4 linked regions of the Homo sapiens genome follow. The protein of the gene in region 3 purifies or fractionates together with the protein of the main gene of each other region. This does not show direct contact. Each region holds a gene or a part of one and is shown on either strand. Other genes may lie near its edges. The genes, in order: OAS2, POLR3E, GIMAP8 and SRP54.

Region 1 (8,269 bases), on a different chromosome or scaffold from region 3:
CCCCACACATGTACCTCCTTGAACCTAAAGTAAAAGTGGAGAAAAATGTATTAATTAATTCAATTAAAAATTAAAATTAAGAGGAAAAAGACCCCTGTGATAACATCAGGCCAAACCAGGTAATGCAGAATAATCCTCCCATCTCTAGAGACTTAACCACGTGTGCTTCAGAGGGAGCACAGCTGTGCCAAAACCTGGACTTTGAACTGTTGGCCTCCAGAACTGGGAGAGAATAAACTTCTGTTGTTTTAAGCCACCTAGTTGTGGTCACTTGTTATGGCAGCCTTTGGAAACCAACACACCCGCACATGGCGTGTTTAACGCAGGCTGATACAACCTTAAGAAAGGAATGGATGTGGTCATCAGCAATCTCCAATACCTACAGCAAATGGGAAGACAGGGAAGGACCAGAGGTGTAGGTAAAGCAAAAAGCCACAGGTCATTAGGAAGTGATGCTCCAACTGGGCATGGAAAAGGAGTTTGGAGTTAGGAACACGACAGATCTGTCTGGACAAGGATCCAGATCTCTCCTAGGGGGAAGGAGGGGCAACTAGGACAGTTTTTGTGTCTGTGGGGGGTCTTGTGTGCCACTCCAAACTCTCAGGTGTGTTCTTGGGATGTATTTGTGCAATGACAAAAGACGGAAAAGATGCCAGCCCACGAGCAGGAGGGCAGTTGGGAGAGGCAGGGTAGGGGGCCCAGTACAGGCAGGAAAAGAAGCCTTGGGTGGGCTTACAGGTGCCACTCACACTTGGGGTCTTCCTTCCTTCCCCAGCCTGCACCACTCTTCACGACCCCAGGCCACCTTCTGGATAAGTTCATCAAGGAGTTTCTCCAGCCCAACAAATGCTTCCTAGAGCAGATTGACAGTGCTGTTAACATCATCCGTACATTCCTTAAAGAAAACTGCTTCCGACAATCAACAGCCAAGATCCAGATTGTCCGGGTGAGCACTGGCCTTTCTCATGTCTTGTTGGAATGATGTAATATTGGGCATTCCTGGAAGGGAGGTAAGTGGGCATTGTAGCTCTCCAGGATCCATCTACCTTCAGAAACTTGAGGAAGGGAAGCCAGGAGTTAAGGGAACTAGGACACTAGTTTTCAGGGGGGTTGTGGATAGACTGCCTAGGTCATTAACAACACAACTTTGATTCTGTATTGTTTTTCTTGGAGCTGTTGGCCGTCCTTGGGGCTCTTGGGCCTGGAGACACATCACTCCCGTCTCTGCCTCTGTCATCACCTTTTCTTCTGTGTCCTCCCCCTTCTCTTCTTTTCTAAGAACACTTGTCATAGGATTTAGGGCCCAGCCTGATCCAGAATGATCTCATCTCCAGGTCCTTAACTCAGTTACATCTGCGAAGACCCTTTTTCCAAATAAGGGCACATCCACAGGCCCCCAGAGCATGTATTTTTAGGGGTCCACCATTGAACCCACTGCAGATTCTAAGGAGCTTAGAATCTCCTTCTCCTTTGAGTGACTGGAGCCCGGCTTGCCCCATCAGCTGAGCTAGAGATTTAGAGGCTTTTGTCATTCTTGTCCGTGGCTCAAAGGCCACGGGGCTGACATGTTTCTCTCTGTTTACTGGTCACACGACCAGATAAACGTGTCCCCGTGGTCACAAGAAGGGAAGGAGGAAAATGTTATTATGTACGCGTAAATTTCTGCGTTGATGCCAGAACAAATCTGTGCAACTAGAGAAGAGGGGCCTGGGAAATGGCACCAATAGCCCCAGGGCAATGAGTGAACTGTCTCATTGAAGGTCACTGGAGTGAAAACAGGACTGAGTTTCTGATCAGTGTTAGAATTGTCAAAGCATGTGCTTTCTCCTCTCCTTCCTGAAACCCCATTCACATGATAGTCAGTGAAAAATAAAAGGTATATGACACATCAAAGAAGAAAAGAGAGCCATCGGCAGATAAGACATTGCTTTCCATCTTCCTGAAGTTGGTTGAAGGTTTCTCTGCTTAGGCCAGAGGAAGGTGACACCTAGAGATTGTAAGGAAGGGGCTACAGTCTGAGAGGAGCCGCCGAAGCCCACCTCTTAAAGACAAAGGTGGCCTGCATGAATGAAGGGGGCTGGAACAGGGATGAATTGAGGATCTGCATACAGGAAATAGAACATACCCTTTCCTCACCTCCTTAACCCATGTAATCAGGCATTTAATACCCATGGATAAAATAAAACATTTTTCTCTACAGAAACTAAATGGAGGAGAAAGAGGAGGAAGAGGAGGAGGGAGGGAAGGGAGAAGCCTTAATGGCAGAGACATAAATAGCCCACAAAGCCTAAAATACCTACTATCTGGCCCTTTTGCAGAAAGTTTACCAACCCTGTACCTCAATTATGGATATTCACCCAATGATCGCCAGACCTGCAGGAGAAAACACACATCAAAGAACAGATGAGCACCTTCACCATAATTATTGCATTCCGCTCGATTTATTTGGTTACAGGAATCCAAATAAAGCTAAATATGTCTTTAGGAAAATCTTTAGGAAATTGACCTGAGAAGCAGGTAACTTGTAACTAGCCCATCAGTTGTTCATGTATAAAAGGCAGGAGAATAATTGCCTTGGGAACTGTATTGTTTAATAACTGCATTATCTATTAGTTTGTAAAAGAAAACCCTTTGCTTTGGACTCAGCCCTCACTGAACCCTAACGCAGAACTTGGCCTTGGAAACAGTGTCAGTTAGCCCAACTGGTGCCAGCCCACGGGGGCACGGGACTCCTCGGTTAAGGAAATTCTGGATCTCAACCTTCCTTTCTTCCTTAGGGAGGATCAACCGCCAAAGGCACAGCTCTGAAGACTGGCTCTGATGCCGATCTCGTCGTGTTCCATAACTCACTTAAAAGCTACACCTCCCAAAAAAACGAGCGGCACAAAATCGTCAAGGAAATCCATGAACAGCTGAAAGCCTTTTGGAGGGAGAAGGAGGAGGAGCTTGAAGTCAGCTTTGAGCCTCCCAAGTGGAAGGCTCCCAGGGTGCTGAGCTTCTCTCTGAAATCCAAAGTCCTCAACGAAAGTGTCAGCTTTGATGTGCTTCCTGCCTTTAATGCACTGGGTAAGGCTCCCCAGACCTTAGCTTGGAAGTGATGGTGGACAGAAGGTGGAGGGAGAGCCACGTGACTTGATTACGGGCTCTGAAAACATGTGCCACTCATGGGTCCCTGGCCCCAGCAAGTGGCATTAGTCATGGCAGTAATACTTCACACTTGTAGACAATTTTGGTCCCATTTCTCTTTTCCAAGCATGGGGCTGTGTGCCTATAATCCCAGTAATCAGGGAGACTGAGGCAGGAGAATTGCTTGAACCCGGGAGGTGGAGGTTGCAGTGCGAGATCGTGCCACTGCACTCCAGCCTGGGTAACAGAGTGAGACTCCGTCTGAAAACAAACAAACAAACACACAAACAAAACAAGCAGTTGGGCTGGGCATAGAGGCTCACACCTGTAATCCCAGTATCTTGGGAGGCCGAGGCGGGAAGATTGCTTGATCCAGGAGTTCGAGACCAGCCTGGGCAACATAGTGAGACTTCATCCCAAAAATAAATAAATAAATAAATAAATAAATAATAAACAAAGTTAGCCAGGCATGGTGGCACACGCCTGTAGTCCCAGATACCCAGGAGGCTGAGGTGGGAGGATTGCTTGAGCCCAGGAGATGGAGGCTGCAGTGAGCTGTGATCATGCCACTGCACTCCAGTCTGGGGCAACAGAGCAAAACTCTGTCTCAAAAAAGCAAAAAACAACAACAACAACAAAAAAAAAAAAAAAAAAAAAAAAAAAAAAAAACAAGAAGCAGCGCACCAGATTTAGCCCAGGGGGCGGTAGTTCACAAAGTCCAGATCAGTGTCGTCCCAGAGATCTTTCTGTGATCATGAAAATGTTCTATGTCTGGGTTCTACAACTACTGAGAGCTTGACATGTGGCTACAGCAACTGAGGAACTAAATTTTTAATTTTCATTCCCTTTAATGAATGTGAGTGCAAATGGCCACATTGCTGGTGGCTGCTCTGTTAGTTTAAGTCTAGATAATACTTTAATAATACCAGCTGCACCTGTGTAGACCACATAATTTTTACATATCTCATTATTCTGGAGATGCTCCCTGTGTCTTAGACATCAGTCTTTTAAATATGCTAATACTATTCACAGTAATTTCCAAGAATTAAATCATATTTGTCAAAAATGTTTTGGAATCTGTTACTTACTATGTGTATTAAAGCAGGATGTCAATCTCTCCCTCATGCCAGGTCAGCTGAGTTCTGGCTCCACACCCAGCCCCGAGGTTTATGCAGGGCTCATTGATCTGTATAAATCCTCGGACCTCCCGGGAGGAGAGTTTTCTACCTGTTTCACAGTCCTGCAGCGAAACTTCATTCGCTCCCGGCCCACCAAACTAAAGGATTTAATTCGCCTGGTGAAGCACTGGTACAAAGAGGTAAGGACAGTCTTTGTTCTGACCATGGGGTTATTATTTTTACCAGTAAGCCATGAACATTAAGCCCTGTTGCCCACAATCTCCCATGCTGAGGGCTGAGCCACTTTGGAGAATCTGCCCACTGGATATCTTTACGACGTTCCCATCACTAACCCTATTCATTTGGGTCAGGCGTTGATGGCTTCTGCCCATCAAAGCTGCTACATGTGGTTTACTTTGCCCTCACACTGGCCAAAGAATTCTGCAGGAATCCAAGTGACCTTGCCTACAGAGGGTGGGTGGAAGCTGGGATTCACATGCCCACACATTGCCAATAGGACTTTTCTGCTTCCCGGCGCACATGCTCTCTCTCAGAAGGCAGGTTGAAGCTGTAGGTGGAACCGGGGCTGCATTTTCTATACACCCAGCTCACAGGAGCTTGAACAACTGGTCAGCCCCTGAGCCCCTACTACAAGTGATCCTCAGGCAGGTAACCCCAGATTCATGCACTGTAGGGTGCTGAGCAGCATCCCTAGTCTCTACCCAGTTTCCCCTCACTTGCACACAAAGTAGCTTCTGAACATCCTCATGACAGTAAACATCAAGCACGATATCAGCTCTTCCTGAGATGCCTCCTTTCTGTGTCCAGCTCCCTGAAATGTGAAACCAAGACCAAACTCTGTAGTTTTCATCCCAGAAAATCAGAGAGCTGGCATGGCGTGTCAGAAGACTTGGGGCTGTGGCGTGACCTTGAGTGAGTCACTCCACTTCCCGCAGCTTCAAAGTCTTCATCTAAAATGCAGGTCATGCTGCCTGCATTGTGGGGAAGATTAGGAATGATGTGGGTAAATGCCTGGGCCCATAGCTGGCATGCAGTGGGTTTCTAGTAAACTGTAGCTATGTTATTGTCCTAGGAAGGCATATATGGTCAAAAGCACAACAAAGAAACTCAAATGTGCTGCTGCCAGGTGGACTCCTGTAGGCTGTACAATTTAGACATCCAAGCTGCAGAGTGTGAGCACACCAGCACGACACTGTGACTCAGTTGCCTTGCTGTGGTCCCTGTGCGGCTCTCACTGAGCTCCTAGGCTAACCAGTTCGTCTGATGTTCCCACTCTTACCTAGTGTGAAAGGAAACTGAAGCCAAAGGGGTCTTTGCCCCCAAAGTATGCCTTGGAGCTGCTCACCATCTATGCCTGGGAGCAGGGGAGTGGAGTGCCGGATTTTGACACTGCAGAAGGTTTCCGGACAGTCCTGGAGCTGGTCACACAATATCAGCAGCTCTGCATCTTCTGGAAGGTCAATTACAACTTTGAAGATGAGACCGTGAGGAAGTTTCTACTGAGCCAGTTGCAGAAAACCAGGTGCCTTCACCCTAGCCCCGTACTTTTCTTAACCTGATTCCCTTGAACACTGTCTCAGCAACCTGGATTTTCCTCTGCTGGGGTCACGATTCATTCCTTGCATGACGGGGGAAAGTGCTAGCCAACAGAACCTGTCACAGTCTCCAGGGATAAAACCTAGCAGGGGCAGGAGAAAATGCTGTTCAGAAAAAATAGAGAAGGAAGGTTCAAGATACCACGTCCCTGAGCTGCTTTCATCTAAGAGGTGTTAGAGTTGGAAGTGTGTCCCTAAGAATTAACGCTATCATTCACGGGCCGATTTATCCTGCAGGGTTTTTATTGGGTTAGGGTTTATCTACTCTTTCAGACCTTCAAGAATAGTAAGAAATCATATCCATCTGCTTAGGGCCACCAGCAAGGGACAAAAACAATGGAAACCAGAGGAAAGGAAAGAGAGAAAATAAAGGAGCGTTGAAAAAGAATAGAGGAGAAGTAAGAGAGAAGGAGACCCCCGGTGGGTTGCCTACCCTGGGTTCTTGGCAACATTGTATTTGATTAAATTATGTATCATATTTTAGCTGACATAGCAAGGAGGAGATATTTAGACTATGCCTTCATTATGCCTTCATGAGTATAGCAATTAACAGCTTTCAAAACGCTTTTGGCAAATACAATTTAATTCTAGGAAGTTGCTTTGGTTTTGGCTTTTGTTTTTGTTTTTGAGACAGAGCCTCACTCTGTCACCCAGGCTGGAGTGCAGTGGCACAATCTCAGCTCACTGCAACCTCTGCCTCCCGGGTTCAAGCTGGTTCTCCTGCCTCAGCCTCCGAAGTAGCTGGGACTACAGGTGCGCACCACCACGCCCAGCTAATTTTTGTATTTTTAGTAGAGATGGGGTTTCTGCATGTTGGCCAGGATGTTCTCGAACTCCTGGCCCTCAAGTGATCCTCCCACTTCAGCCTCCCAAAGTGCTGGGATTACAGGCATGAGCCACTGCACGCGGCCTCTAGAAAGTTACTTTGAACCCTACTAGTAAATTTGAGTTGCTGACATCTAAGCTGTAAGAACACATTGTCTTATTGCTGAAAGTATTATAGGATGGACCCCAAATTCTGAAGTCACTGGGATTTGGAATCTCCTAATGCCTTCTAACCTCTCATTCAGGCCTGTGATCTTGGACCCAGCCGAACCCACAGGTGACGTGGGTGGAGGGGACCGTTGGTGTTGGCATCTTCTGGCAAAAGAAGCAAAGGAATGGTTATCCTCTCCCTGCTTCAAGGATGGGACTGGAAACCCAATACCACCTTGGAAAGTGCCGGTAAAAGTCATCTAAAGGAGGCGTTGTCTGGAAATAGCCCTGTAACAGGCTTGAATCAAAGAACTTCTCCTACTGTAGCAACCTGAAATTAACTCAGACACAAATAAAGGAAACCCAGCTCACAGGAGCTTAAACAGCTGGTCAGCCCCCTAAGCCCCCACTACAAGTGATCCTCAGGCAGGTAACCCCAGATTCATGCACTGTAGGGTGCTGCGCAGCATCCCTAGTCTCTACCCAGTAGATGCCACTAGCCCTCCTCTCCCAGTGACAACCAAAAGTCTTCAGACATTGTCAAACGTTCCCCTGGGTTCACAGATCTTTCTGCCTTTGGCTTTTGGCTCCACCCTCTTTAGCTGTTAATTTGAGTACTTATGGCCCTGAAAGCGGCCACGGTGCCTCCAGATGGCAGGTTTGCAATCCAAGCAGGAAGAAGGAAAAGATACCCAAAGGTCAAGAACACAGTGATTTTATTAGAAGTTTCATCCGCAAATTTTCTTCCATTTCATTGCTCAGAAATGTCATGTGGCTACCTGTAACTTGAAGGTGGCTACAAAGATGACTGTGGACGTGGGTTGCACTGGCCACCCAAGGATGTCTGCCACACCTCTCCAAAGCCCTCCCTACCTACCAAGATATACCTGATATATTCCACCAGGATATCCTCCCTCCAGATATACTTGGTTCTCTCCACCAGGTTCTTTCTTTAAAGCAGGATTTCTCAACTTTGATACTTACTCACATTTGGGGCTAGACAGTTCTTTGTTTGGAGGCTCTCTTGTGCATTGTAGGATGTTGAGCAGCATCTCTGGCCTGTACCCAGTAGATGCCACCCAGTTGTGACAATTAAAAGTGTCTTGAGACTTTATCATGTGTCTTCTGCCCTAGGTGAGAACCCTTGCACTAGAGGAACCCTACACCCCAACCCTGGGGGGAATGTAGGGAAGAGGTGGCCAAGCCAACCGTGGGGTTAGCTCTAATTATTAAGATATGCATTATAAATAAATACCAAAAAATTGTCTCTGGCAATAGTTACCTTCCCAGATACAGGTCCCCCCTTTTTTCCCCTAACTCTTTTAAGCAATGATTGTAACTATTAGGAGACATTGCTCTCCCACGTATGTTTTTCTTTTTAGACAATGCAGACACCAGGAAGTTGTGGAGCTAGGATCCATCCTATTGTCAATG
Region 2 (8,269 bases), on a different chromosome or scaffold from region 3:
GCAAATGTGTATTGGAGGCCTCACAGGGCTTTTACTGGTAGTAACCATTATTGCTACTTGTGTGATGGAACCAGGACTGGAAACTACCATCCCAGATGCCCCCTCCCCTGTCCCCTTCTCTCCAGGACCCAGGCCTGTGTCACACTTGTCCTGGTCTACCTTTGGACCAAGTGGCCTGGATTGCTTGGGAGTCAGGCAGTGCCTCTAACCCACACTGACATGGTACATGTGGGAAGCAGTTGAAAAGAACCCCCAGGGTACCCCAAGAGTTATGGGGAAGGGGGCGCCCCTCCATCAGGGTTGGCATCTTCAGGAGGGAGGACTCTGGGTGTTAAAGCACAGTTGAGTTGGTGCCAGGCTGATGGGAAACAGACGCAGCTTCCCCACTGTACGGAGGATATCTGCAGACTCGAAGCCGGGCATTTCACTGGGCCCATCACACTCCCCCTCTCGCTGAAGCCCTGTCAGGCCCTGGGGGGTGTGCTGGCCTCCTCCCCATGGTGAGGTGAGAGGCACAGGTTTGTGGCTGCCCAAGGCCCTCAGAGATGGTGAGTAGCAGAAGCTGGGATTGGAACCCATGTTCCTGCATCTGGGCTGGGGCAGACAGGGAGGGATGAGGCAAGCAAATGGATCCATGGGGTAGAGATGGACAAGCAACTCACCCCTGGGCCTTGGTCAGTTTCCCCCCCAGACTGCTGCTTCCCCGGATGAGCAGAAGGTGTTTGCCCTCTGGGAGTCTGGAGACATGAGTGATCAGGTGAGGTGAACTTTGCTGCCATCTTCCCGAAGAGCCAGGGGGGTTTCCTGCAGCGTTGGAGGCCTTGGGGGACATGTGCACCCAAAGTGCAGCCACACATTTCAGATTTTCTGGCACACTCGGTTTTAAATATCCTGCTCCAACTCTGTACGCTAACAAAATAAGCTGTATGTGCCAATAGTTTGAACCTAAACCAGTGGTTCCCAGATGCCAGTCTGTGAGCCAGCTCCATCAGAATCATCTTTTAAAAAATACAGGCTGGGCGTAGTGGCTCACGCCTGTAATCCCAGCACTTTGGGAGGCCAAGGTGGGTGGATCACCTGAGGTTGGGAGTTTGACACCAGCCTGACCAATATGGTGAAACCCCATCTCTACTAAAAATGCCCATAGTCGTGGGAGGCTGAGACAGAATTGCTTGAACCTGGGAGAGAGAGGTTGCAGTGAACCGAGATTGCACCACTGCACTCCAGACTGGGCGACAGAGCAAGACTGTGTCTCAGAAAGAAAAAAAAAAAAAACATAGATTCAGTTCTGTTCAGTAGGTATGCGGTACTGTCCTAGGTATCTGAATTTCTGTAAAGCTTCCTGAGCAACTCTGATCCAGCCAGGCTTATAGAGCACTGGTGAAGCACATTTCTCAGGCGGCCTCTGGCAGCAGGAATCAAAAGGATTCCTTGTCAGATGTCAGGTCCTGGACTTTTAGGTTAAAGAAATTGGTCATTTTGCCTCTAGTCATACTGTGATGGGGAGGGTCACAGGTGTCCAGTGCCCAGAAATGTGAGTGGAAGCAGCAGCGCCTTGCGTGTGTGTGGTGTAGTCATGGACCCTGCATCCCAGCTTTTCTTAGGCCGTGAACGTACCTAATTTGATGGTCGAAACGCCAGTCGGTCTGACCGTGTCTAGGCCCTGCTCCTAAGGTGTGGGGAGAAGGGAGTCAGCAGAAATCCCACTGAGCTCTCTGTCCCCAGCTGCCTCTTAGGGGAGCCAACTGGCAGGCTGAGGATCTAAGGGGCTGGGGCCTTTTCCTGAGCAAGCTTGAGTGCTTTTGTCCAGAATAGAGGGTATCTGAAATACTTTGATAACAAAAAGGCAAAAAAACAAAAGTCATAAATGCAGATTTTTAAACATCAAATCAGACTAGAAGTTTTAATAGGAAAGCTCTTGCACTGCTGGACCTGACTGCCACCCCTCAGAGGTGACCACTTTTATTACTACTTTTTTAATAGAAACAGGGTCTCACTATGTTGGCCAGGCTAGTCTTGAACTCCTGGCCTCAAGCAGTTCTCCTGCCTCAGCCTCCCAAAGTGCTAGGATCATAGGCATTTACATCACCAAAAGATACCACTAAAATAGCTGCCCCCATTTAAAAAAAAAAATCAGCCTGTCATTAGCAATGGGCTTCCCATTGTGGTGGATGAGATTTAGCTCTCAACTATTTTAGGAGACTGTAGAGATAGATATGTTACGCCAGTTTTTTTTTTTTTTTTGAGATAGATAGCGTCTTGCTCTTGCTCTTGCTCTGTCATCTAGGCCTGGAGTGCAGTGGTGCCATCTCAGCTCACGCCTCTTGCGTTCAAGCGATTCTTGTGCCTCAGCCACCCGGGTAGCTGGGATTACGGGCTTGTGCTGCCTCACCCAGCTAATTTTTGTATTTTTAGTAGAGATCGCGGTGGTAGGGGTCGGGGGGTGGTCCCACCATGTTGGCCAGGCTGGTCTCGAACTCCTGGCCTCAAATGATCTGCCTGCCTTGGCCTTCCAAAGTGCTGGGATTACAAGCGTGAGCCACCACACCAGGCCTTTACCTCTTTTTAATTGGCTATCATTGTTTATAGCATTGTCACAGAATGAACTGAAAATCTATCCATTGTAGAGCCAAACATCAGTAATATACTATGATTGCATTTCCTTGTTCACTGCTTCCTGTTTTCACTTGTGTAATTTTCTGAACACATGTGTACCGAGGGTGATACTTTGCTTAATTAAGCCTGGTTCCCGGGAAGCCTCTCCCTCTGCTTCTCCAGTGAGACTCGCTCTTCCCCATGTCTGTTGCTGAATTCTGGAATCTCTGCTTCTTCCTTGCTTTAGCTTCTGAAGAGACAGAGGAGTTGTCTGCATTCTTTCATGTCTTAAAATGGATTACAATACAGTATTACTGTTTGTCTGGGACTAGAATTTTAAGAGGCAAAGGATACTTCATGTAGCAGTCAGCTGTTTACATGAACCATAGCAAAAAAAAAGGAGAATCAAATCCATCTCCTCTTAATGTTTGCAGAAAGATGCAAACAAAACCAGCTAAGTATGGAACAATGTGTGAGGTTATCAAAGTTTCTATTTTTACGTGATCAAATGATTTGCCTCTCAAAATTCTAGTCCTAGACAAATAGTGATACATGAAGCATCCTTTTTTTTTTTTTTTTTTTTTTTTTTTTTTTTTTGAGACAGAGTCTCCCTCTGTCAGCCAGGCTGGAGTGCAATGGCACGATCTCGGCTCACTGCAACCTCCGCCTCAGCCTCCTGAGTAGCTGGGATTATAGGCGTGTGCCACCACGCGTGGCTGATTTTTGTATTTTTAGTAGAGACGGAGTTTCACCACGTTGGACAGGCTGGTCTCGAACTCCTGACCTCAGGTAATCCGCCTGCCTCGGTCTCCCCAAGTGCTGGGATTGCAGGCGTGAGCCTCTGCGCCCGGCATGAAGCATCTTTAAGAGAGTTTCCATTGTTTAAGTTTTCAGAGTTGTTGAAATTCCATAACATTCTCCTTCTTGGTCTTTTAAATTTGGCCTGTATTCTTTCCTTTATGCCAAACTGCAGAATTTTTCATTATTCTGTATATCAGTCAGTGCCATTTCAGCTGTGCCCTGGTGCGGGTCATTATTGTACTAGACAATTGAGTTCTTATAAAATCCTGTGAGTTGTTACTTTTTTTTGTTTTTTTCAGAATTCTTATGACAGATATTAGACATACTGAATCCAATCTTTTCCATTTTTATTTTGGGGTGTAACGTATTTTACGGCATCCTGTTTCATGGATGCAGTGGCATGTTTGTGCATTAAGACTTCACACCAATTTTGACACCCTCTTCTCATCTCCGTGCAGCTTAGATTGTCGCTTCACCTGCTTGCTAAGTCCGATGCACGCCTGCATTTTACCATGCAGAAATATGTTCAAGCCACTCATCCTCTCATGTCTCTTCACCAGTTCTTTTGTTATGCTGGCATATACCTTTGTTTTTATTTATATTCAAGTTTCCAGACATAGCATTAATGCCTTTACTTTTGTGTTTTTATTTCTGTACACTGTCTTGCTGGGTCTCTAGAGATGACTTGGCTCATCTTTAACCAGAGGTGCTGCGTGAGGGTTTTTATCAGAGACTGCAACACAAAGTCAGGTGCATGGCTTGGGTGTCTTGTTTGGGGATGTTTCTCTTTTTAGATCACTGTTTCCCATCATAACGTGTTTTTGCTACTAAAGCATCGACAGGTTTTGCTTGAAATTTTTTCCAAAAATTACCGGGTACGCCGAAACATGATCCAGTCTCGGTTGACTCAAGAGTGTGGAGAAGATCTCAGTAAACAGGAGGTGGATAAAGTACTAAAGGTACATCCATTTTGTGCATAACAAACAATATCAAAGGCTCTGGAAGGGGCTGACAGTGTGTAGAAGGGACTCTAGTGTCTTTGTGTATATGAAATCAGGCTTCCTTGGGACCACTCCCCAGTCAGTCTTGTCTTGAGCAACTGTTAATGATTGATTGATTGGCATTGGTTGGGGAAGGGGGTATGTGCCAGAGGACTGACCCCTTCAAACAATATAGTCACAGTGGTGTCCAAGGGAAAGAATACAGCCATGGATGCTTTGTTTCTCTTTCTGGTTGGGCCAGGCCAGTAATGCCCCTTTCATCCCTCTTCTCTGCTTGTCACTAGAGACAGAAACTAAAAACCATGGCTTCAGGCTGCTAAGAGCCTAAAACAATAGAACAACAAAAAAATATGGTAGGTTGGATGAGCTTGGCAGTGGGTAGGCGTCTTCTAAAATGATAGGGCCTAGTTGAGAATCCTCACTCTACTCTCCCTTGAATTTTGAACTATCTTCTGATTGTTGCCATAGCCACACACATGACTTTCAGTAGAATCCATTCTTAAATTTAGTTTAAAAAGGAATATGATCTGTTTACTATATGAAAGCACCTAATGTACAACCTATAATGCTTTTCTGAAGTGACTGTAGTACAAATACCAACCATATTTGCAGCAACACTGAGAGACAGAAAACTGATGACAATGTCTTGTTTTGATTAAACATCCAGAGCCATATAAGTAATACTGTTTTTTAAGCACCCTTGTTCTGGGCATGTCAGTATCTGTATTTCGTAGACCCCCTTTTTTTTTTTTTTTTTTTTTTTTGAGATGGAGTTTTGCTCTTGTTGCCCAGGCTAGAGTGCAGTAGCACAATCTCGGCTCACCGCAACCTCTACCTCCCAGTTTCAAGCAATTCTCCTGCCTCAGCCTCCTAAGTAGCTGGGATTACAGGTGTGAGCCACCATGCCTGGCCCACCCTCACTTTTAAAATGCCCCTGAGGAATGGCCAGGCGCGGTGGCTCACACCTGTAATCCCAGCGCTTTGGGAGGCTGAGGTGGGTGGGTCACTTGAGGTCAGGAGTTTGAGACCAGCCTGACCAACATGGAGAAACCCCATCTCTACTAAAAATACAAAATTAGCCAGGCGTAGTGGTACATGCCTGTAATCCCAGCTACTTGGGAGGCTGAGGCAGGAGAATCGCTTGAACCTGGGAGGCAGAGGCTGCAGTGAGCCAAGATCATGCCGTTGCACTCCAGCCTGGGTAACAAGAGCAAAACTCTGTTTCAAAAAAAAAAAAAAACACTACCCCTGAGGAAAGGGTGGCTGGTAGTAGCCATGGTGGTATGGTTAGGCAGTTTTTGATTTCCCATTTGTATTCTATTCACTAATCATAAATCGAGTGTTGACATTGTGGACAGAATGTAATTAGCTCCTTTTCCTGCAAAAATCTGTGCTTACCCTGTTTCTCTCTCATAGGACTGCTGTGTAAGCTATGGTGGCATGTGGTACCTTAAAGGGACAGTACAGTCTTGACAATAGTAGCAAACTACTAACCCAGCAAATCTAAGCCCAAGGAAGAAGGGCGGAACCAGAAGTAGGGCCTCGACTTGCTTCAGACGACACAGAGCAAGAGGAACTGACCATCTCATGACCTGTGGCATTGCACGGTGCAGTGGACAGAAGGGATTATCCTCAGCCAGTCGCAGGGTCAGCTTAAGTTAGTTAGATCACTCCCAGAAGAGACCAGCTGGGACCTTCTTTGCAGTACAATTTGAAATTCCTGATGTATTTTGCTTATTATTTGGTTTCATTCTCATAATAAAGAGAGTGTATACTGACATGGGCAGGATGATAAAAATCATGGTTTAATATTTTCTTTTGTAAACTTAATGCCAACAAGGTCTAAGTTATGTTTACAACATGAAGAAAACCTCAAAGTTCTTAATTTTTAAAATGCCTAGAAGACAATATTTAGTCTTGGATTATCTATCTGCTAAGACCTCCACCAATTTCATTAAACCAAATTGAATTATTCTATTCTTGGGATTCTGTGGCCACTTCACCTTTGACAACAACCTACTTTATGTAGCAGTCTCAACTGTTTACATGAACCATAGCAAAAAAATCAGAATCAAATCCATCTCCTTTTAATGTTTGCAGAAAGATGCAAACAAAACCAGGTAAGTATGGAACAATGTGTAAGTGAGGTTATCACACTTTGATGTAAAAATTTCTATTTTGTGTATTTTTAAAATAAATGCAAACACTAAACTAGCATCATGGTGCTATCTTCAAATGGTTACAGGAAGGCGATCTTGTTGGGCTCAGCGTTACGTGTATCTAGAGGGAACGGAGCTAATGGAGGAAGACAGAGCAGCACTGTCCACTAGAAAGAGGCGAGTCACGTACATAATTTTGAAAGTTTCTAGCAACCACATTAGTTTAAAAAGGTCATGTTAGCATATTATTTAGCTCAAAATATCTAAAACATCAACATAAGGTAAAAGTCTTCAAAATCTGGCATTTTACACTTTCCTCAACACTCAGTTTGGACTAGCCACATCATAAGTGCTCCGATGCCACATGGGGCTATTTGCGACAGTATTGGATAGCACAGCCCTAGAAACTGATGGAAAAAATAAGAGTAAGCTAGGTTGGATGACATGTGAATTTTGGTATCTAGATAAGGCTTTCGCCATCTTTTTTGTACAACACAGTCACTAATTGTCTGAAGGTTTAAATGACGGTCTATGCTATTTCCCCACTCCCCCCAAAATAAAACATCTAATATTTTAGCTATAGAATCACTAAGGCATTGATCAAGGATGTACTTTGCCAAATAAGTATTTGGTAACATCACTTAACAAGTTGATCGTGTATTGATTCTGTTAACATATGTGAACCTGAAAAGTAAAGTTACCAAAAGCGATTTGGAATATGTCTCAGCTTTTCCATCCTACTTCCTTCTCACTTTGAAAGGGGAAATGCTCATGTGGGACGGCACAGAATGTTAGTCCCATCACCTTGCAGAACTTAATTGGCTCAGTGGAGAAGTCAGAGCCTTAAATACTTTACATTGATAAAAAGAACTGGTTAAAACACCAAACTCAAATAGCAAGAAAAAGAAACAAGGAATATAGGAGGGAACTATTGTTTTAAAAAAAATTGAGGGAACTTGGGATGTCAGAATAGGACTTTCCAGCACTCATCCCCCTGCAGAAACATGAATTTAAACAACTGTCCACACACAAAAATACCTTCACAAGAGTTAAGGAACCTCTAGAGATTACAGCACCTTGGTGTACCACAGAAATAAGATGTACTAAAGAGGATAGGAGGGACAATTTTACATTACCTAGCTTACCCCCTCCCCAGCCCCAGGCAGCACAGGGTGGAGAGAGAGAGAGAGAGAGAGAGAGAGAGACCCTCTACTTGGAGGAAGGAGAACATTGGACCCCAAAATCATGCCAGCCCCAGACTCCAGGCCTGCGCCAGGAACACAGGCTCTAAGCATACCCACTGCCAGGCCTGCACCCATGAGCTCACACTCTAGCAGGCACCCCCTCCCCACCCTGGTCCAGCCCCATCTGAGTAAACCCCAGCACTGGGCTGGCCCTCACAGACTAGGCTCCAATATCCCCTGCAGCCCCAGGTTCTAGGCCAGCCCCCATGGCCCCAGGATCCAAGCGAGCCCTCAGAGACTAATCTCCAGGCCAGTATCTATATACCCCTGGCTCCAGGCTGATCTATATGCCCCCATGCCAGCACCCACAATCCCAGGCTCCAGTACAATACCCCTGGACCCAAGGTCCATGTGTGCCTCAGCACCAGGCTCCAGTGGACCCAGGTTCCAGGCACATACCTCAGTAAGCCTCAATGCCAGGCATGCCCTGGCGGACTGAGGCTCCAGAACAGTCCCTATGGACCCAGAA
Region 3 (6,533 bases):
TAAAGAACATTGACTCAGAAGTTAGAAAACACATCTGTACAGGCCCCCATGCCTTCCTGCTGGTGACACCACTGGGCTTTTACACTAAGAATGATGAGGCAGTGCTGAGCACCATCCAAAACAATTTTGGAGAAAAATTCTTTGAGTACATGATCATACTTCTTACCAGGAAAGAAGATTTAGGGGATCAGGATCTAGATACGTTCTTAAGAAACAGCAATAAAGCTCTCTATGGTCTCATCCAGAAGTGTAAAAACAGATATAGTGCCTTCAACTACCGGGCAACAGGAGAAGAAGAGCAAAGGCAGGCGGACGAGCTCCTGGAAAAAATTGAGAGCATGGTGCATCAGAATGGGAACAAGCATTGTGTTTTCAGAGAAAAAGGTAAAACTGTGAATAGGATATATATTTTTACATATATCATTTAAAAATAGGTATAAAATATATAAGAACTTTTTATTTTCTTTTTTTTCTTTTTTTTTATTATACTTTAAGTTTTAGGGTACATGTGCACATTGTGCAGGTTAGTTACATATGTATACATGTGCCATGCTGGTGCGCTGCACCCACTAACTCGTCATCTAGCATTAGGTATATCTCCCAATGCTATCCCTCCCCACTCCCCCCACCCCACAACAGTCCCCAGAGTGTGATATTCCCCTTCCTGTGTCCATGTGATCTTATTGTTCAATTCCCACCTATGAGTGAGAATATGCGGTGTTTGGTTTTTTGTTCTTGCGATAGTTTACTGAGAATGATGATTTCCAATTTCATCCATGTCCCTTCAAAGGACATGAACTCATCATTTTTTATGGCTGCATAGTATTCCATGGTGTATATGTGCCACATTTTCTAAAAGGCATAGAGAAGATAAAAAGGACAGGTCTCCTGTTCCTGTGTTAGTCTGCTTAGGATGGCAGCCTCCAGCTCTATCTATGTTACTGCAAAAGACAGGATTTCATTCTTTTTTATGGCTGCCTATTATTCTATGGTGTATATGTACCTGTACCTAAAATAAAAGTTGAAATGAAACAAAAAAGAAGTTGAAACTGGAAGAAAAATAAAGGAAGGATAGGTCTGTTCTATGGACTAACTCTTTTCTCTTTCTTTGCTTCTCAAATTGTACTGAAGTTATAGCTTTTCCATGCACATTCTCTTGAACCGGTCTTTAATTTTTTCATGATCTTTACTATCTCTTCAACTGGATAGTGTGAGTGTCTTGAAGAAAGGAGCTGATGCTTTCCAACCCTTTGTTTCCCCACAGTGTACTGTTGCCCAGAGCTTGGCACACTGCTCTCTTTACTACTTAAGAAGGGCTCCTCATCCACTTAGTGCTACACGTTCAGTTGACCTATGCTGAGGTCCTTCCCATTCTTACTCATCCCGTTTTTTTTTCTGCTTCAAACATCCTCACCCAGGAAGAAGATAAAACCCAAAGGAGCATATTTTCTTATTGAACCCTCCTTTAGAAGTATAGATACATGGGAAAGTCAGGAGAGGCTTTGTGTAGAAAGCCCAATTTGAAACAGGTTTTAGAGAATGGGTAGGGATTAAATGGCTGAGCAGAAAGCTGGAAGATATTCCAGAGAGTACACCAGCAATTTGAAGCAAAGAGGTAGGACTAAGCATGTCACTTGTTAGGGGACAAAAAAGAATAATCTTGGTGGAGATGGGGGTTCACAGCTCTAAAGGACATCTTCCAAGAACATTGAAGATTAAGGCGTTGAACATTAAGAACACTGAATTAGAGAATATGGGATGGGGAGTGGGGCCGGATTTCAGAGGTACATGAGAAACACACCCTCTGTAGGTACAGAAGTAGGGACTGAAATATATGACAAATATGGGAGTGTTGGAAGATTAAGCTATTGTTCATCTGCTGGGCATAACTATGAAGTTGAAGTTTCAGCATAAACAGGTTAATAATTTCCCCTTGAAGGAAGAGCATGGGATGTGCTTTCTTCCTCCTTTGCATTGAAGTAGATATTAGCTATTTGATATGAAATTCATAATGGAAGAGAACTACGAAGAGACTTGAATGAGCACTGGACTGTCACAGTGCAAGTGCAAAAGCATAAGAACGATCTCCAAAGAACGCATATTGTAAGGTCTCTATGTGTCTGTAAATTCCATTTATAGGGAAATTCATTCTCTTTCTCCATCATGGACACCACACACCCAACAGTGTTAGTGGATATTCATTATTATAACCATGCGGTTTCTTCTGACTCATCAGTGAAAGGCAATTAAGTTCAATGTGGTTTTAATGAGAAATGAATTTTTACATGTCCTAACTAAGGAAACTGGTAATCTATCAGTGATATGTAGAGTTTCTTTTTCATGAAAGTCAATTTTACAGAATAATTCTTTAAATACTGTAAGGAGATGTTGCTATAGTTAGCAGTAGTTGGGAGTGAGAAGATGTAGTTGTAACAGGAACAGAAGACAAAGGGATGAGATGTGTAGACGGAACCCAGCTGAGGGGAGCAGAGAGTAAGAAGGCCAGGGGACACTCACAGGTGCCAGGGAGTCTGTCTGGAAGGTGCTGCAAAAAGGGAGCAGAGCCGATTCAGTGATAGGAACAGTGCCACATTGGTGGATGAACCCTGGACGGAGACTGTATGTAGTCCAAGTCCTGCCATGAGTCCACAGACTGAGTGAACTGGGCCAAGTCATTCCCGTGTTTGGAGATCCCCCTGCTTGGGTGAGAAGGAGGTCTTGATGCTGTTTGAACATGCTGTTTACTTTAGTGATGTAATCTTGCTTCATGGGATAACTTTAAAATCCAATTTCAGATCAGCCCATGGTCACGAATCTTTCCCACTTTCCTTTGACAGAAACCCTGAACATTGTCCTTGTGGGGAGAAGCGGGACTGGGAAGAGTGCGACCGGGAACTCTATCCTGGGGAGCCTCGTCTTCACCTCTCGGCTCCGGGCCCAGCCAGTCACCAAGACCAGCCAGAGTGGCAGGAGGACATGGGACGGACAGGAGGTGGTGGTTGTGGACACTCCTTCCTTCAACCAGATGCTGGATGTCGAAAAGGACCCATCCCGGTTAGAAGAGGAGGTCAAGCGCTGTTTGTCCTGCTGTGAAAAAGGGGACACATTTTTTGTCCTGGTGTTCCAGCTGGGACGATTCACTGAAGAGGACAAAACAGCTGTGGCGAAACTGGAGGCCATCTTTGGAGCAGACTTTACGAAATACGCGATTATGCTGTTCACCCGGAAGGAAGACCTAGGGGCGGGGAATTTGGAAGACTTCATGAAGAACTCAGATAACAAAGCCCTTCGGCGCATTTTTAAAAAGTGTGGGCGGCGAGTTTGTGCTTTTAACAACAAAGAAACAGGCCAGGCCCAGGAAACCCAGGTGAAAGCTCTTTTAACAAAGGTCAATGATCTGAGAAAAGAAAGTGGGTGGTCCGGGTATCCCCATACACAGGAGAACGTCAGCAAACTAATTAAAAATGTCCAGGAAATGTCCCAAGCCGAAAAACTCCTTAAAAATTTAATAGGTATTTTACAATAGGTAGCCGAAGTGCCTGGGGTCTCTTCAATTAGAGACACCCTCAGGTTGGGGGGAGGGGCGGGGCATGGTACAACCTGTGGGAAGGGAAGCGGGTTCATGGCTTTGAGGGCCTGAGAGGCAAATGCATCCCGCCTTGTGATGTATCAGCTATTTGTAGATAAATAAATTGCAGGTGGGGGCGAATAGTAGGGTATTATAAAGGAGAAAGAAGATACAAGGTGGGGAAATCTGGAAAAAGATTTCAGACATTAGGCTGATAATAAGTGGTAGAATCAAGTCACAAGAATCACCTCACTTGTGTAGGTAGGTTGGAATCAGGATAGACACTGTGATCAAGGCTGAGGCCACCTGGGATGAGAATATAGATAGTCGTACAACAACCCAGGGGATCCAGATACATGAGACCAGGGCAGCGTTCAGCACACTCCTGGGCATGGCGGAAGCAGGAAGCAGACTCCAGAGGGCCTCCCTGTTGTCCAGGGCCGTTGGCTCCCTGAGCTCTCCTGTCTCCTTTGGGATGCGACTTAGGGCTAGAGTGTTCTTTTCTTCACACGTTAGCCATTCCTTACGGCTCTTCACGTTCCACGCCTAGATGTGAAGTGGGACATAGTCTTCCATTGCTGGCTGTCCCTGAGGAAACAGACATGAGTCTTGGAGGTTCTGAATGATTTTATTGCTAATTATCACAGTGACATAGACTAGAACAGAAATTAGAAGCATAGTAAGATTGCCAAAATCAGAGAATCTTGCAAAGTTCTGTAATTCTAAGTGTTGTTCTAGATTTCCTCTAGAGAAGGTTATTAGAATCTCCATTGCGTTTCTCTTTCTCCTTCTCTTTCCCTTGAGGTTAGGAAACAGGTTAAAACTCAGAGAACTCCAATAATAATGGTTTAAAAACATCAGGGGCTTCCTGTATCTCCTGTCAGGAAGCCGAGGAATAAGCAGGCTGGGGCTGGTGGGCGTCAACATCCCAGTTTTGTTCTATCTTTCTGTCCCACCTGCACTGGGATGTGGCTTCTACACTCGAATTTGCTTCTTGGTTTCAAGACAGTGGTGTTCTTTCCATAGCTGAGCAGATTATTTTGAGAGGTGGGTGATATGTGAGAGAGAAATCTGGAACCTTCTTCTGGGTAGATACAGGATAAGATAGATACAGGGTAAAATGTTGAGCACTTTGTACATGCTTTGAGAGCATAATCTTTGTCATCTGTTTTTTTCCCCTAGACAATATCAGGTTACCGTCAACATTAATCCATTTAAAAGGACATGGACTGTTGCCATTAATACTTTTGGATTCCATATAACCCTTAACACAATAACTTCTAGAAAATGTGTGTGCCGTAGACACAAAGAAGGGAACAATAGACACCAGGGTATACTTGAGGGTGGAGGGTGGCAGGAGGGTGAAGATTGAAAAGCTGCCTATTGCGTGTTATGCTGGTTTCCTGGGTGACAAAATTACCTGTACACCACACCCCTGTGACACACAACTTACTCATGTAACAAACCTGTGCATGTACCCCTTGAACCTGAAATAAAAATTGGAAAGTAAAAAAAAGTGTGTAAATATATTTAGTTGAATCAAATAATAAAGATGAATCATTATGAATTCACATTCTCTTTCTGATTTCTATTTTTGTGATTTAGGGAAGCAGCATACCTTCATGAAGAGACAATTGAGATGTTTAGATACCTTGACTCAGGCGAGGTTTTTGTATCTTTGGTGCCTGAGGACCTTCATTTAGACTGGGTGACAGCCATTTGTGTGGCAGGTCCCTGACAGCTCAGTTATCTTTCACTCTGGACATCTAAGTATAGCAAGGACAAATAAATGTAACCAGTATTAGAACCAGAAACATGGGAGGAATAAGGTCTGAAAGGCATTTTGTGCTTCTTCCCTGAGCTTCCCTTCTGCCTGAAGGCAGAAACAAATCCCAGTGTGCTACCTATGGCTGAGCAGGTGACACTGGGAGCTGCACAAGGTGGGTGATGTGTGGGCTAAGCAATGTGGCATCCTCTCACAGGTTGGCTCTAACATACCTTGCTGTTTTCCTTCAGGTCCAAGTCTGAACGGGGCAACAATACTGCTGTGTCAGTTTCTCTGAGAAATACATGCCGAGAAAGAGTTAGGAGCACAAGAGGTTTATGGGGAAAGCTCATGAAAGACAAAAGAGGGAAGAAGCCAAATTGGGCAGGGAAAGCCTTCAGACTGTCATTTAGACTGGACACTTGCAAGAGAAAAGTGGGGAGGAGCTGAGTTGGGCAGGAAGAGCCTGGCAAAGCCCAGGCCAACTCAATAGGGAATTCTGGGGCAAAGACAGATTAATAGCCAAGTCCTGCATTGGACAGACACTAGGAGCTCTGCTGTGCTCCGCTTTAGGCTGGGGACTGGCTGGAGAAAGCATGGCTTCAGCTCAGAAGCTCAGATGGGACCTGACAGTGTTGCAGCTGGAGCTGAATGGCAAGTTTCTTCTTGAAGTGAAAGCCTTCAAGAGTGGCATCCCTTCCTCACTGCCATAATTGGCGGACATCCTCCATGTCTCACTGAAGACCCTCCTTGAGCTGGAAGTCCAGAACTGATATTCTACTCTCTCAAACATATGTGTCTTACCAAGGCCACTATCATGCTGGCCACCTATTGCTTGTCCTGCCTCTCCAATGTGACATCATTGAGGTAATGTGCTAGTTCTCAACTGGAAACAATTTTGCCCTGTAGAAGACATTTGGCAATTCCTGGAGAAATTTTCTTTTTCTTTTTTTGGAGACGGAGTCTTCCTCAGTCACCCAGGCTGGAGCGCAGTGGTGTGATCTGGGGTCACAGCAAGCTCCGCCTCCCAGGTTCATGCTATTCTCCTGCCTCGGGCTGCCGAGTAGCTGGGACAACAGGCGCCCACCACCACGCCCGGCTAATTTTTTTTAAAAATTACTTTTAGTAGAGATGGGGTTTCACTGTGTTAGCCAGGATGGTCTTGATCTCCTGACCTCGTGATCTGCCCGCCTTGGCCCC
Region 4 (8,269 bases), on a different chromosome or scaffold from region 3:
GGTGGCTGTGACAATTTCTTAAAACACAAGAATGAAATTTGCCCCATTGATTGACTCTTCTTTTCACAAAAGATTTCTCTGTAGTATTCGATGCTGTTCGATAGCATTTTACCCACAGTAGAACGTCTTCCAAAATTGGAGTCAGTTCTGTCAAACCCTGCTGCTGCTGCTTTATCAACTAAGTTTATGTAATATTCTAACAATTTGAACAATTTTTCATATCTGTGCTTTATCTACTATCTGATTTATTGTTATTTTTTTGTAGTCTCTTTTTCCTGAGCTCCAGGTTTTCATAGTAGCCCAAATAAGACTGTCTTTTTCTTTTAAGGTTGTTTTTTTTCCTCACTGTCTTTAACACTGCAAAAATGTTTGCATGTAGAATTCATAATTGCAGCATATCTAAAGTATCCATTCTGTGCCAGGCACTGTCCTGAGCACTTTAAATATATTAATTCATTTTATCATCATAACAACTCCTATGGCATATTCAGTTATTATCTGCCTTTTTCAAATTAGGAAACTGGGATACAGGGAAGTTGAGTAATTTGCCCAGTATAGAACCTTTCCTGACTTCCTTCCTTCTTTGAATTAACGCCCCTTCCTCTATTTGCTTAACTCTGTCGTATTACTTGCCACGATGTGCTGCTATTAGTTTATCTTCTTTCATTTGATTTGAGCTGTTGGAAGGAATATAATATATATGTTTCATAAATCTTTTATAAGGAAGATGTGGCTTAAAAGCTGCATTTATGAAATGGATTTGGAGGTTTTGATCGTGACTTTATTTTGAGATATTGTATCTTTGTTAGTATTGCATTGATAATTAGACTTCACCTGGATTTCAGTTCACTTCTGGACAATATACTTAGAGGGTATGTATAGACAAATTAAAAGATGTAGGAAATCAGGATGATAAATGGGGTTCTAAACCATGTTAGAAGAGTCAGAGGTGGATATTTGTCATCCAGCGAAAATTCACAGGAGACATGGTAGCTCTTATGCATTTGAAAGCTGGCCAGGTGCGGTGGCTCTCAACTGTAATCCCAGCATTTTGGGAGGCTGAGGTCGGTGGATCACTTGAGGTCAGGAGTTCGAGACCAGCCTGGGCAACATGGTGAAACCCTGTCTTTACTAAAAGTACAAAAAAAATTAGCTGGCTGTGGTGGCGTGTGCCTATAGTTCCAGCTACTCAGGAGCCTGAGGTGGGAGAATCGCTTGAACCCTGGAGGTGGTGGTTGCAGTGAGCGAAGCTTGCACCACTGCACTCCAGCCTGAGGGACAGAGCAACACTCTGTCTCAAAAAAAAAAAAGATTTTGAAAGCCTTATTTTTTATGCGTAGCAAGGAGACATATACATGAATAGGAATGGAAGTGCCACGTAAATGGATTTCAATTTAATATGTGTAAAGAAAAGATTTTTCCCTAAGTATAACAGAATGGCATAGACAGCCTTACATTAGATAGCAGGTCATCTCTCCTGGGGATATTAAGACCAAGGCTAGATAACCATTTATTTGGGGGATATTGCAGAGGGAATGCAGACATAATGGACATTTTGACTAAAGTCCATCCCATTCCTGAGATTGCATGCAACTGAAGCTAGAAGAAATGCACCTGATATTCTAAGAGTGATCAAACAACTGCGGGAATTAATTCACTATATGCTACTGAGAGAATTAAAATACTAGTAGTAGTAATTACTTGATTATAGGAAATAATTTTTCTGTTGATTATGGATAGAACGTACCTCTTTCTGCTTGCTTATATAGTCTACATTATGAATTTATGATTAATATTTAGGGTAGAGCTAAAGTGAGCATTTGTGTTCATTTTTTAAATATACCATATACCTCTGATGTTTGGAGGGCCTGGAGAGGGTAGACATATGAAGTATGGAAATGTTGGACATGGGGTCTCGAAACATTCTATTAATAGTTTACTTAAACTGTAGGGAAAGTACATGTTTGTTTCATTGTTTTTATAGCTTATGAATACTATAAATGTTCTTTTGAATATATTCCGTATTTTCTTTTTTTTTTTGAGATGGAGTCTCGCTCTGTCGCCCAGGCTGGAGTGCAATGGCGCAATCTTGGCTCACTGCAACCTCTGCCTCCCAGGTTCAAGCGATTCTTCTGCCTCAGCCTCCCGAGTAGCTGGGACTACAGGCACATGCCACCATGCCCAGCTAATTTTTGTATTATTAGTAAAGACAGGGTTTCACCATATTGGCCAGGCTGGTGTCGAACTCCTGACCTCATGAGCTGCCTGCCTCGGCCTCACAAAGTGTTGTGATTACAGGCATGAGCCACCACGCCTGGCCTCCATGTTTAATTTTTAAAACTCAAAAGCAAACATAGCGAATGTTAACATTTGTTAAATCTGGGTGGTAGTTTGACTATGTATTATGTCTGTTTTTCTGTATGTAAGATATTTTGTAATATAAAAAGAAAAATGAGATAGTTATCACTTTAAAAACATCTGCTAAGCTCTTTGAAGTTATATATTGCCCATTTGCACATAACTGCTTTGATGGTGAATGATAATTGTGTGTGAGAGTAACTGACCTTGTCTACAGAACTAGACAGTACGGATGGTGCCAAAGTTTTTAGTAAACAACCAGGAAGAATCCAAAGAGTAGCAAGAGGATCGGGTGTATCAACAAGAGATGTTCAAGAACTTTTGACACAATATACCAAGTTTGCACAGATGGTAAAAAAGATGGGAGGTATCAAAGGACTTTTCAAAGGTAAGAAAAATAAGCTTGTTATTAGTTAACAGACGGAAAAGAAAGGAAGTTGAGAAAAAAGAGTGCTGCCAGTATTGGAAAATTCACAGCTGAATTTCATGTTATTTTCAAGTACTTCCAGGATTTATGTGACCTGTGATTTATCTGTTTTCATATTCAAGGTAATATTAATATTTAAAAAAAAACTTTACATCTGTGTAGTGTGGGTAAATGAAAAAAAATTAATAAAGCAATGATTTTCTTTTTGTGAACACATTATATTAAATTTAGATAATATAAGGAAAAAAAAAACACATTACCTTTACTCCCCAGAGAATCCAGTGGATCCTACTGCAAATAACAGTTGCTATAACTAAGTTTTCTTCTGATATATCATAACTGTTTTTCCATGTTGTCAAATATTCTTCAAAACATAATTCTTGGCCAGGCACGATGGCTCATGCCTGTCATCCTAGCACTTTGGGAGGCTGAGGCGGGCGGATCACTTGAGGTCAGGAGTTCAAGACCAGCCTGGCCAGCATGGTGAAACCCTGCCTCTACTTAAAATACAAAAAATATCCGGGTGTCGTGGGGTGTACCTGTTATCCCAGCTACTCGGGAGGCTGAGGCAGGAGAATCACTTGAACCCAGGAGGCGGAGCTTGCAGTGAGCCGAGATTGTACCACTGTACTCCAGCCTGGGCAGCAGAGTGAGACTCCGGTCCCCAAACACACACACACACACACACACACACACACACACACTTCTTCTGAGTAATACTGTTTAAGTTATGCATGTATCTTTGTCTAATGTAGTGCCACTTTTTTGGACAGTAAGGCTGATTCATTCACTTCTATATCAGATCAGTTTTTGTGCAGTTCCATGAGACCAGGGATTTTTGCCTGTTTTGATCAGAAACATAGTAGAAGCTAAAAAAATTTTGTAGTAATATAATTTCCATTATATTTCTTTATTTATATTATTTTGAGACAGAGTCTCTCTCTGTCACCCAGACTGGAGTGCAGTGGCACAATCTCGGCTCACTGCAGCCTCTGCTTCCCAGGCTCAAACAATTCTCCTGCCTCAGCCTCCCGAGTAACTGGGATTAAAGGCATGCACCACTACCGCCTGGCTAATTTTTGTATTTTTAGTAGAGACGGGGTTTCACTATGTTGGCCAGGCTGGTCTTGAACTCCTGACCTCAAATGATGTGCCCGCCTCGGACTCCCAAAGTGCTGGGATTACAGGCTTGAGCCACCACGTCCGGCCTCACTTCCATTTTAATGGTTGAATATTTTCTCAATATGTGTTTTTACATTATTAAGTTTAACATTTCTTTGTACATTTACTGGTTTGAATTTACTTTGTGAATCACCTCTTCATGTTCCCTGTCCAGTTCTTCCATTTTTCCCCCTTATATCTTTGTAATAGCTCCTTAAAATCTTTGGTTTATGTCTTCAAATATTTTCCCCCAGTTTTTCATTTACCTTTTATTTTTATTTATATTTTATAATGAACAGTAGTTGCCCTTTTTAATGTAGCCAGCCTATCTTTTTTTATTTCTTTTATGCTCATAAACAGCTTCCCCTTGTTTATTTTTTCCTTTTTTTTTTTTCTTTACAGAGGTAATCAAGTTAACCTTCTCCATGTTGATACCACAGTTGTCACCATTTTCTTCTTTTTTTGAGACAGAGTCTTGCTCTGTCGCCCAGGCTGGAGTGCACTGGCATGATCTCAGCTCACTGCAACCTCCGCCTCCTGGGTTCAAGCTATTCTCCTGCCTCAGTCTCCCGAGTAGCTGGGATTTCAAGCACGTGCCACCATGCCCAACTAATTTTTGTATTTTTAGTAGAGACTGGGTTTCACCATCTTTACTGGCCAGGCTGGTCTCAAACTCCCAACCTCAAGTGATTCGCCCGCCTTAGCTTCCTAAAATGCTCTGGGATTACAGGCATGAGCCACAACACCTGGCTTCTACTTGTTTTTGTTTTTATTTTGTGTTTGACTTTTTAATCTCAATTGAATTTATTTTGCTGTGTATTATGTATCGTAAAAAGATAAGGTTTTCCAAAGACTTCCAACTGTTCCAGTCCTCTTTTTGATTTTTTTCTATAATGTAAACAACTAATTCAGAGTCTGTGAAAATTTGCCTTGAAACCCATTAAAATGAATTTATTGTTTCCAAAAATATTAATTAGACAAGCTCTGAATATGAACAATACCATTGAATAGCTTCTAAAAGAATGAGTATTTCCAGATGTTTTAAATTACCTTTTGTCTTTGAAGCTTTCCTTATTTTCCTTGCGATATCCTATTTTCTCTTTTGTGACAAAAAAATTAGACAAACATGTTGAAAATTGGTTATAATTCCTACCATCACATGCTATTTCAGATAGTGACTAATAAACACATTACATCACTGTAATGTCTTTCCCATGTAGTCCTGACTGTTCTTGATAGAACAGATTCACCATCCAGATCTTATCTATGCATTGATCCCTCAATAAAGGAATAACCCAAGATGAAGTTGGCAGTGGGTATACACACAGCTATGTCACACCAAACTTGAAATACTTTTTAGAAGTTTTAAATGCTGATAAACAAACTCTTAGGACAAATCACTAATGAGCATGGAATTCCCATCTTCTTCAGATTTATTCATCATAAATGGTTTTCACAGATTTTATCATAAAAACATAATCTTCTCTTTCATTCATAGTTTATAATTCACATGATTTATTCACATTAACCAGCTGTGATTGGAGAATCAGGAGGAGCTTTGAGTCCCATATTTTATAAATGCTTCTGAGAAGTACCATAGTTAATGCCCCTTTCAAATAAATAATTTTGGATGGTTGTGGTGGCTCATACTTGTAATCCCAGCACTTTGAGAGGCCAAGGCAGGAGGATCCCATGAGCCCAGGAGGGCAAGGCTGCAGTGAGCCATGATCAGAGCACTGCATTCCAGCCTGGGCGACAGAGCAAGAGCCTGTCTCAAAAAAAAAAAAAAAAAAATTGTTGAAGCAGTTCTATTCATTGTTGTAGTGATGATCTCTTGCTTTCTTTTATGAGTACAGCTGTTGTCTAAAGGGTGTTTTTATCTATTCTGTTGTTGTTTTTTTATTTATTGTTGTTGTTTATTTTTTGTTGTTTTTTGTTTGTTTGTTTTGTTTTGTTTTGAGACAGGGTCTCGCTGTGTCACCCAGGCTGGGGGCTGAAGTGCAATGGCATGATCATGGCTCACTGCAGCCTTGACCTCCCAAGCTCAAGCGATCCTCCAATCTGAGGCCCCCAAGTAGCTGAGACTACAGACGCATGCTATCACACTGAGCTAATGCTTTTTTTTGTTTTTTTTGTAGAGACAGGGTTTCCCCATGTTGCCCAGGCTGATCTTGAACTCCTGGGCTCAAGTAATCAGCCTACCTTCGCCACCTGAAGTGCTGGGATTACAAATGTGACCCACCTCACCCAGGCTGCATCTCTTTCATTGACTGCCCTTTTTACTATGGTGTTTTGACATAGTGTAGAAATTCCTTGACAAGTGAAGTTGCATTATTTGTCTTTGTATTCTCTGAAGGTTTTCATTACTTAAAGAAAACTTCTGGCCAGGCGCTGTGGCCTACGCCTGTAATCCCAGCACTTTGGGAGGCCAAGGCGGGCAGATCATGAGGTCAAGAGATCGAAACCATCCTGGCCAAAATGGTGAAACCCTGTCTCTACTAAAAATACAAAAATTAGCTGGGTGTGGTGGCTCATGCCTGTAATCCCAGCTACTCGGGAGGCTGAGACAGGAGAATGGTGTGAACCCGGGAGGCGGGGGTTGCAGTGGGCTGAGTTCGTGCCATTGCACTCCAGCCTGGGTGACAGAGCTAGACTCCATCTCAAAAACAAAACAAAACAAAAAAAACTTCTTAGATACATACACATCTTCACGTTCTCTCAGACTCATACTTTACTTTCTACTTTCTTTTTTTTTTTTTTTTCTTCTGAGACAGAGTCTTGCTCTGTCGCCCAGGCTGGAGTACAGTGGTGCGATCTTGATTCACTGCAACCTCCGCCTCCCGGATTCAAGCAATTCTGCCTCAGTCTCCTGAGTAGCTGGGACTACAGGCGTGTGCCACCATGTCTGACTAATTTATTTTGTATTGTTAGTGGAGACGGGGTTTCACCACGTTGGCTAGGCTGGTCTCGAACTCCTGACCTCAAGTGATCTGCCAGCCTCGGCCTCCCAGAGTGCTAGGATTATAGTTGTGAGCCACCACAGCCAGCCCAACAGACTCATACTTTCATATTCATCTACCAGCCATCCAGTCTCTTTGCTAATTAACCCATGTCTATAAACTCAGCTTTTTGTCCAGCATTCCCCTGTATCACTATTAAGCCGTTGTTATAGCTTACTATTAAAAACTGCTGGCTGACCAGGTACGGTGTCTCACACCTGTAATCCCAGCACTCTGGGAGGCTGAGGTGAGTGGGTCACGAGGTCAGGTGTTTGAGACCAGCCTGGCCAAGATGGTGAAACCCTGTCTCTACTAAAAATACAAAAATTAGCTGGGTGTGGTGGCGGGCACCTGTAATCCCAGCTACTTGGGAGGCTGAGGCAGGAGAATTACTTGAACCTGGGAGGTGGAGGTTGCAGTGAGCCGAGATCACGCCACTGCACTCTAGCCTGGGTGACAGAGCAAGACTCCATCTCAAAATAAATAAAAAATAAAACACTGGGTACAATTTTGCTAATAGTGGCTTATTCACAGATATAAATAAAGTATTAGCATAAATCGTAGCCTTAAAAAAGCCTTTTATATGTCCTTTTATATAGAATTTTACATGGTCTTCAAAAAATAGTATGTAATTGAGAAAAAGATTAGAAGGGAATATGTAGAAATAGAAAGAATTATGTTAGAGTGATAGGATTATGTAATTTTTTCTTAGTATTTTCTCAGTTCATCAAACTTTCTATTATACCCTGATTATACTGATTATATTACCTCCTACGCTGACTCAAAATCTTTTTTTTTTTCCCCTCAGGTGGCGACATGTCTAAGAATGTGAGCCAGTCACAGATGGCAAAATTGAACCAACAAATGGCCAAAATGATGGATCCTAGGGTTCTTCATCACATGGGTAAATACCAAGTTGTTGGCAGTTGCTAATGCAGTTTAATTTATAAGGGTTGAGTTTTAATGATAAGCCTTTTATTGTAATATTATGAAAATATGTTCAAAAGGTGTGTGATTTCAGGGAAATGGTCATCTGAATCCTAAGTTGAATTCAATTGTAATAGGGCTTATTAGCTGAGGTCTTATTCACTCCTCTGCTGCCATCTGTGTGATGTTTGAGCAAGCTATTTAATCATCTTTTGTTTGTTCTGGTGACTTTTTCCCTTATTTTAGAACCTGGATATTTTTACTTATATGACTGAGGATTTTTAACCTGAGTTCTACTTTGACTATATAACCTTTACAAAGTTCCTTAAACTTTCTGAACCTCACTTTCCCCTTCGGTAAAATCACAGATCATATCTCATCAAGAAATTGTGACAAT

The links.
Region 1: the proteins of GIMAP8 (region 3) and OAS2 purify together in Homo sapiens (affinity purification with mass spectrometry; 2 studies listed by BioGRID and IntAct, with this or other methods). This does not show direct contact.
Region 2: the proteins of GIMAP8 (region 3) and POLR3E purify together in Homo sapiens (affinity purification with mass spectrometry; 2 studies listed by BioGRID and IntAct, with this or other methods). This does not show direct contact.
Region 4: the proteins of GIMAP8 (region 3) and SRP54 purify together in Homo sapiens (affinity purification with mass spectrometry; 2 studies listed by BioGRID and IntAct, with this or other methods). This does not show direct contact.

What each region holds. Positions count from the first base shown.
Region 1 is NC_000012.12:113,002,157-113,010,425, forward strand, and holds part of OAS2 (2'-5'-oligoadenylate synthase 2), read left to right. Parts: intron 1-775; coding exon 776-946; intron 947-2,777; coding exon 2,778-3,066; intron 3,067-4,256; coding exon 4,257-4,444; intron 4,445-5,548; coding exon 5,549-5,787; intron 5,788-6,930; coding exon 6,931-7,099; 3' UTR 7,100-8,217; coding exon of another isoform or gene 8,218-8,269.
Region 2 is NC_000016.10:22,327,831-22,336,099, forward strand, and holds the end of POLR3E (DNA-directed RNA polymerase III subunit RPC5), read left to right. Parts: exon of another isoform or gene 1-679; coding exon 680-757; intron 758-4,229; coding exon 4,230-4,355; intron 4,356-5,813; coding exon 5,814-5,870; 3' UTR 5,871-7,266; downstream 7,267-8,269. UniProt on the Homo sapiens protein: DNA-dependent RNA polymerase catalyzes the transcription of DNA into RNA using the four ribonucleoside triphosphates as substrates.
Region 3 is NC_000007.14:150,474,255-150,480,787, forward strand, and holds the end of GIMAP8 (GTPase IMAP family member 8), read left to right. Parts: coding exon 1-384; intron 385-2,837; coding exon 2,838-3,526; 3' UTR 3,527-5,139; downstream 5,140-6,533.
Region 4 is NC_000014.9:35,020,335-35,028,603, forward strand, and holds part of SRP54 (signal recognition particle subunit SRP54), read left to right. Parts: intron 1-2,575; coding exon 2,576-2,746; intron 2,747-7,753; coding exon 7,754-7,849; intron 7,850-8,269. UniProt on the Homo sapiens protein: Component of the signal recognition particle (SRP) complex, a ribonucleoprotein complex that mediates the cotranslational targeting of secretory and membrane proteins to the endoplasmic reticulum (ER).